Linked DNA regions of Homo sapiens. The protein of the gene in region 2 interacts with the protein of the main gene of each other region in a pairwise test. Each region holds a gene or a part of one and is shown on either strand. Other genes may lie near its edges. The genes, in order: TFG and MSS51.

Evidence for each region.
Region 1: the proteins of MSS51 (region 2) and TFG interact in binary tests that used the Homo sapiens proteins (3 or more experiments, as listed by UniProt).

Annotation. Positions count from the first base shown.
Region 1 is NC_000003.12:100,726,374-100,730,196, reverse strand, and holds part of TFG (protein TFG), read right to left. Parts: intron 1,486-3,823; coding exon 1,339-1,485; intron 1-1,338. UniProt on the Homo sapiens protein: Plays a role in the normal dynamic function of the endoplasmic reticulum (ER) and its associated microtubules. Required for secretory cargo traffic from the endoplasmic reticulum to the Golgi apparatus.
Region 2 is NC_000010.11:73,423,368-73,427,190, reverse strand, and holds the end of MSS51 (putative protein MSS51 homolog, mitochondrial), read left to right. Parts: intron 1-459; coding exon 460-584; intron 585-813; coding exon 814-1,380; intron 1,381-1,999; coding exon 2,000-2,093; intron 2,094-2,418; coding exon 2,419-2,638; 3' UTR 2,639-3,612; downstream 3,613-3,823.

The DNA.
Region 1 (3,823 bases), on a different chromosome or scaffold from region 2:
TTAAATTCTCATCTACACTTCTTAATATTCTGCAGATGGTTAAATCCCCTGAAATTATATGCAAATGTTGTGTCAGCATCTATGAATTCTTCTGGAAAAATTGTCTAACTTTTTCATTGATTCTTGATCTAAAATTGGAAATTTTTGTTTGGAGAGGTAGGGCTCAGAATAGGCAACCTTCTTTGACCTGAAATATAAAAGGTTTCATCATAAAGTGACCAAGAGGATCTCATTATAGTATTCAGCAAATCTCCATTATGTTCTGAAATAGAAGTGCAACTAGGAATAATCAATCACCAAATATTTATTAAACATCTATCATTAACATAATTCCATATGACTATTAGAAGACAGGAAGAGAGAAATGATGGAAAATACATCTTTATTTAAACTGTAACTAAAATAAAAATAGAAAACAAAAACTTCCAAAATATTTAGTGGCCAAAAATAGAATACATACCATTTATCCACAAAAATTATCTCATGTTAAGCCCTTTATATGCAGTCATCCAGTCTAGACTTTTTTTAAATTACTATTTCACAATATGGACAGTTTTAAACTATGAAAATTATAAGCAAACAAAGAATTTGTAAAAAGAAAAAAATAATAATAAGAGTTTTCTTTAAATGCAACATCTAAGAATCTTAAAAGAAGAAAGCAGTTTTTTAACTGTACTTTCAAGTCATTAACACATACTTAAAGTTCAGTCCACATTTTAAAATACATTCGGTCCCAAAATTATGTCAGTTCCAAATGTTGACACATTTTGCTTTATCTTAACACAAACAGTACATGTCATTATACAATGGGGAAAAAATTAGTTTTTCTTTAATTATTATTAAAAACTGTGTTTCAAATTTACAACATACCATTTTTAATGAACATTACTAATCTAAGTGATTTTTAGTTGAAAATACTTCCAACACTATGTAATTATTCATGAAATGATTTTCAATTCCCAAGGTTCATTACTTATCTATTATACTAAAAAGGGTTCATGTGTCAAAAGGATTTGAAAACTGACCTGTGTAACAAATCCAAAAGTCTAAGACTAGTTGCGAAAGAATCACCCAAAAAACACTTTAAAAATGGGATTTCCAGGTGCTACGCTCCAGTAGGTCTATGATGAGATCCAGAAATTGGTATAATGAAACCTCCTAGTAATTCTGATGAACAGCAAAGTTTAGGAACACAGACATAAATACTAGTAGAGAGGCAGAGGAAGAAACAAGAGTGACATTGGGGATGCCATCCTTCTCCTACTTAAAAAGAGTTTTTTAAAACCTCCAAAAAGACGTAAGAACAATAAGTCAGAATACAATGGATTCAGGGTTTACCATTTTCAGGAATATTGGTGGAAGGTCCTGGTTCTCCAGGTGGTTCCAAGCTATCCAATAAACGATTCACTTTATTTCGAAGTTCTATCAGTTCTCGACGGAGATATTTCACCTGACTTGATTCAAGGGGTCTTGGCTGGCCATTAACTGAAATAAAAACATTTATTTGCTTAAAATTAGAAGTTCATGAATAAGTATACTAATAATATGCAACAAGGAAAAATAAATACAATTCCTTTAAAAAAACAAAAACAAGATATCAATGTAATGGAGTAACTTTTTTTTTAAAAAAAAAGAATTCTCTATGGCTAATAACTTATTTTGGAAAAAAAGCAGAATTATCAGTCTTTCTTGATGCCATACCTATAGCCTATGACCTTACTGGTAAAAAGGTTTGGTAGGAAAATCCGAGCTCTACTTTTTAATAGAAATGATTAAATTTAATAAAAATCATAACTTCAAAAGCTCACTTTATTTCATGCTGTTCTTAAATATTTATTAAATTTAATAGAAATTATTAAATTTAATAAAAATTATATAACTTAAAAAGCTCATTTTATTTCACGCTATTCTTAAAATAATACAAAAATACCTTACTCTATACATGTTTAAAGATATAACATGACTGATAGGTCTGTTATCCCTCTTGCATAACTTTGTCTTGAAAAAAAACAGCTAACTAAAATAGCTGATCTTAAAAGAAATCGTTAAAAAAATATATGCAGGGCCAGGCATGGTGGCTCACACCTGTAATCCCACCACTTTGGGAAGCCAAGGAGGGAGAACTGCTTGAGCCCAGGAGTTCAAGAAAAACCTGAGCAATACAGTGAGACTTCATCTCTACAAAAACCTTAAAAAATTAGCCAAGTGTGGCAGCACATGCCTGCAGTCCCAGCTACTCAGGAGGCTGGGGTGGGAGGATTGCTTGATCCCGGGAGGGGAAGTCCAGTTGGCTGAGATCACTCCACTGCACTCCAGCCTGGATGACAGAGGGAGACCTTGTCTCAAAAAATTTTAAAAAATAAATATAAATTTAAAAATATATGCAGAACTTATCTACATCATGACTGTCCTTCAAAGCAGTTACTTCCAGAAACAGTATATAAGCCACAAAATGCCAGAGATTACTCGGTAATCTCTAGTTGTGATTTTTTAATGAAAGCAACATTACTTCACTTATTATTCATTTTGTCCAAATGATTTTCAGTTGACTGAAAAAAATGAAATCCTTCATTCAGCAACAAACACTGTCACCACTCAGGTTATTTTTAAAAAGAAAGTGACACAAGGCTCTGATTGCAAACCCCAAGACAGGCGTTCAAAAATTAAACTAAAATGCTTTGCACATTGCCAGTATACATACATACAAACTCCTGAAGCACCTAATTAGAAAAGGACATCTACGTGAAAATAAAAGTTCAGGGCGATTCTTTGTTAAACATGTTTCAAAATCAAACCACCAATTATAAGCTTTTAGAAGAAAACTCACAGTAATTCACATACTCCCTGCATAGCTATGAAGTTCAATACAATCTCCTACCTACATCAATTATTGGTTTTCACTTGGTATTACTGTTTTTTCTCCAATATTTGATGAGAAAAACAGCTCCTAGCAGCCAGAAACTGGTCTGGTACAGTAAGACAGGCCTTAGTGTTGCTGGAAGCTGGCCTGGCACTCACAGGTAGGCTGTGGTGTTCTCCCGTTGAATATAAATATTTCAAAGAACACCAACATCACACAAGACTATAATCTGTGATAGATCAACAGTCCATAACCATGTCAAAACTCCAGACAAAAACAAGAACACTGACCACACCAGAAAAATGACCAAACAACCTTTTATCCTGGCTAATATGAGTAACTGCTACTACTTTACCAACTGCAGCTTTAGCCTCAATTCATTCCTCTCACCTTCCAGATAAGATTTAGTAAGATTCATTCCTCTCACCTTCTAGATAAGATTTGATAAGATACCCAAACATAGAATCATCTCTACTTCCTGAGAGCATCCAATGCAGAGCAAAGCTCTACTTCCTTGAACCTTATCCAAAATCAGGTAACACAAACCCAAGCCCAAAAAAAAATACTTTTCTAACATACTTGTAAGACATCCTATTGTTCTCCGTGGTATTCATTCTCCCTTGCTGCAGTAAGTCAGTAAACCCAACTTCATTCAACTACAGGTGTGTTCCTGGTGGTCTTTGGAGCACACTGATACATCTTACCAGAACTTTTAAGAACCTTGCATTTACATTCCTAGTATGGCCTATAATCTGTTATTATCTACTCAGTGGGTTTAAGAGCACTAAGCTCCAAATTATACTCAATTAAAAGTTTAAATTAGCTAAGTTTAAATTAATTAAGTTAATATTAGGTGTCAGCTTGATTAGAGTGAGGAATGCCTAGATGGCTGGTAAAGTACTGTTTCTGGGTGTGTCTGTGAGGGTGTTGCCAGAGGACACTGACATTTGAGTCAGTGAACCA
Region 2 (3,823 bases):
TTTGTCACCCAGGCTACAGAGATTAGAACAGTGTTCTAATCCTGCTTATTTTTGGTGTTATTGGGAAGTGAGACAAGAAACCACAATACAATCCTCTCTGTCTCTCTCTTGAGTACTCAAGGAGTAAGACTACATTTGTTCTGGGGAGGTGGAGGTTGAACCATACCTGTTATGAGAGGACAGCTGCAAACTCGTGGTGTTTTTTCTAAAAGTGATATAAAAAGTGAGTTGTTCCAGATAGAGAGTAAGGTATCACTCTGTCTGGCAGAATAATTATATTCCCAATCCCTCCTGCCTTGTCTGCCAAATGTAGTCCCCAAAATTGGTGCATCAGCTCTCATTCCTCTCCCTACCTTCCTTACCCATTCACCATCCTAGGTGCAGGAATATCAGTTCCTTTCCTCCGATAACCCCAATCATATTTATAGTATAAGAACTATTTCTCTCTCATTCTCTCAGGTGCAGAAATGTCTATTACTGTGGTCCAGAGTGCCAGAAGTCAGACTGGCCCGCACACAGGAGGGTTTGTCAAGAGCTTCGTCTTGTGGCTGTGGACCGTCTCATGGAATGGCTTCTGGTCACAGGTGGAGTGGTGGTGTTGAGGATCTCTGCCATAATGGTCATAGTTGATTGCATTTAAAGGAAGATACAAAATCATATTGTTATGAAAAAATGAGGAAGTGGGGCAAAGGATGGGGCACGCCTGCTCACAGGTTGGCAGAGTGAACATGGAGGGAATATTGATCATTAGTGAGGGGGAAATTTTGAAGCCAGGAAAGCATTAGGTTACTTCTTATTTCTTCTTTCCTACAGGTGATTTTGTTCTACCCTCAGGACCTTGGCCATGGCCACCTGAAGCTGTACAGGACTGGGACTCCTGGTTTTCTATGAAGGGGTTACACCTAGATGCTACATTGGATGCTGTGCTAGTTAGTCATGCTGTGACCACCTTATGGGCCAGTGTAGGACGGCCAAGGCCAGACCCGGATGTCCTGCAGGGATCTTTGAAGCGGCTGCTGACAGATGTCCTGTCACGGCCCTTGACTCTAGGCCTAGGACTTAGGGCCTTGGGGATAGATGTTAGGAGGACTGGGGGAAGCACAGTGCATGTGGTTGGTGCTTCCCATGTGGAGACATTTCTTACTCGCCCAGGGGACTATGATGAGCTTGGTTACATGTTTCCTGGGCACCTTGGACTCCGTGTGGTCATGGTGGGTGTAGATGTAGCTACTGGCTTTTCACAGAGCACCTCAACTTCACCCCTGGAACCTGGCACAATTCAGCTTAGTGCCCACAGGGGCCTCTACCATGACTTCTGGGAGGAGCAAGTAGAGACCGGGCAGACACACCATCCAGATTTGGTGGCGGCATTCCATCCAGGTAAGAGTCATTGGTTCAGGGGAATAGAGGGTGGCTCCCCTGAGAATTTTCCATCCTGAATCTTCTGTCTTTGGAACCCCATTCATTTGGTCTCATTAAACACAATATGATGACAACTTTTCTTTTTTTTTTTTTCTTTTTTTTTTTTTGAGACGGAGTCTCGCTCTGTCGCCCAGGCTGGAGTGCAGTGGCGCGATCTCGGCTCACTGCAAGCTCCACCTCCCGGGTTCACGCCATTCTCCTGCCTCAGCCTCCCGAGTAGCTGGGACTACAGGCGCCTGGCTAATTTTTTGTATTTTTAGTAGAGGCGGGGTTTCACTGTGTTAGCCACGATGATCTCGATCTCCTGACCTTATGATCCGCCCGCCTCTGCCTCCCAAAGTGCTGGGATTACAGGCGTGAGCCACCGCGCCCAGCCTGATGACAACTTTTCTTGATAATTTGCCATATGTACTACACTTGGGTTCAGAATTTTTCATTGAAGAGTGGATGATGATGATGATGATAATGACTGGGGATAAGCAAGGTGAGGGGTGGGGTGCTCACAGTCAAAGAAATATCTTGCTCTTAGGGTCTGCTTTAGTCTTTCCCTATTCCCATTTTCATTTTTGTTCCACAGGTTTTCATTCCTCCCCAGACTTGATGGAGGCTTGGCTGCCCACCCTGCTGCTACTTCGTGACTATAAGATTCCTACATTGATTACTGTTTACAGGTTTTGACCTCATCCTATTTGTGATACTTCCCTGACTTTACATCTCTCTTTATATAGATGAGCTCATTTTTGCCCCCCTCTTGCTCATCTACCTTCTGGTGAGGATGTTCTTTTCCGCATATGGCTTTTTTATCCCCTTGGAACAGTCCTTTGCTAGTTAATGGAATATTTAATGAGACATTTGGGAGGGAAAGATAGCCCTTGCCTAGTCCAGCCTTAGGCAATTTGGGGGATGGGTGATTACAGAAATGTCAGGCTCTTGGGCAGTTTTTCCTTTATCTCTGTCACAATCAGTAGAGTAATTTTTCTTCTCTCTCTTCTACAGCCATCAGGAGTTGGTATCCTCTTTGCAGATTCTGGTGGAACTGGATACACACATCACTGCCTTTGGGTCTAATCCTTTCATGTCCCTCAAACCTGAACAGGTCTATTCCAGTCCCAACAAGCAGCCAGTATACTGCAGTGCATACTATATCATGTTTCTTGGAAGCTCCTGTCAGCTGGATAATAGGCAATTAGAAGAGAAAGTGGACGGCGGGATTTAAATAGATCATAACTGGACATCTGGAAAACGGGGAGTTTGTGATGAAATTACCCTGCTAATGCCAGGTTCTTGCAAACTTTGAAAAACATTATATTCTAAACCTCATTTACTGTTTGGGTAAAAATTCTAAGCTGAATGAGAGTTTCTGTATAACATAACTGGTTTCTTTCTTTTTTTGAGATGGAGTCTTGCTCTGTTGCCCAGGCTGGAGTGCAGCGGCATGATCTCGACTCACTGCAGCCTCCGCCTCCTGGGTTCAAGTGGTTCTCCTGCCTCAGCCTCCCTAGTAGCTGGGATTACAGGTGCACACCACCACACCTGGCTAATTTTTGTATTTTTAGCAGACAGGGTTTCACCATGTTGGCCAGGCTCGTATCAAACCCTTGACCCCAGGTGATCTGCCTGCCTCAGCCTCCCAAAGTTCTGGGATTACAGGCATGAGCCACCATGCCCAGCCAATGTAACTGGTTTCTAAGAGTTTAGCCACAGTAGCTTCTAGAGATAGGAAATTAGATTTAGTGGGTGGGAAGAGGCCCTGATGCTGGTCTTTCCAGAGCTTATAGTTGCTAACACTTTTCTTTGTAAAGAAGTTTACCTTTTGACTGGAACCAGATGGCACTGAGAAAAAGAATGAGAACCACCTTATTCTTCTGAAAAAGACTTTCTTCTCATCCAGTAATTTGGGCTAAAAAATGGAAAGATGTTGATGACTTGAAGTGATGCAAGAATGGACAAGTCAGGGAAGTCATTGGGAACATGGATGAGGTTGTAAGCATTGGTACAGTGTCCTGTTTCCTGACTTTTTTGAGAGAAATGTCTACTTTTCCTGTTTTCTCTTGGGGACTTTTGACCCTAGAGTAGCCCTGGTGTTATATTTTAGATATCCCAAGCTATATCAGACTTTACCTGAATATACTGGAGTTACTTATTATCCCCCATTCTATACCCCAATAAACTCAGTTTGGGGCTTCTTAAGTCACTTGTTTTATTTCCTATTCACTGGCAAGTATTACTCATCTGCACATAACACCTCAAGACTGGAAGTTTCTCTCTTGCCAACAGAGTAATTAGCATCAGTTCTCTGGGTCTGCCACTCTGTCACACATTTGCCTCATGTCATCCTTTTCTTTTTTATTTCTTTTTCTTTTTTCTTTTTGGAGACAGAGTCTTGCTCTGTTGCCAAGGC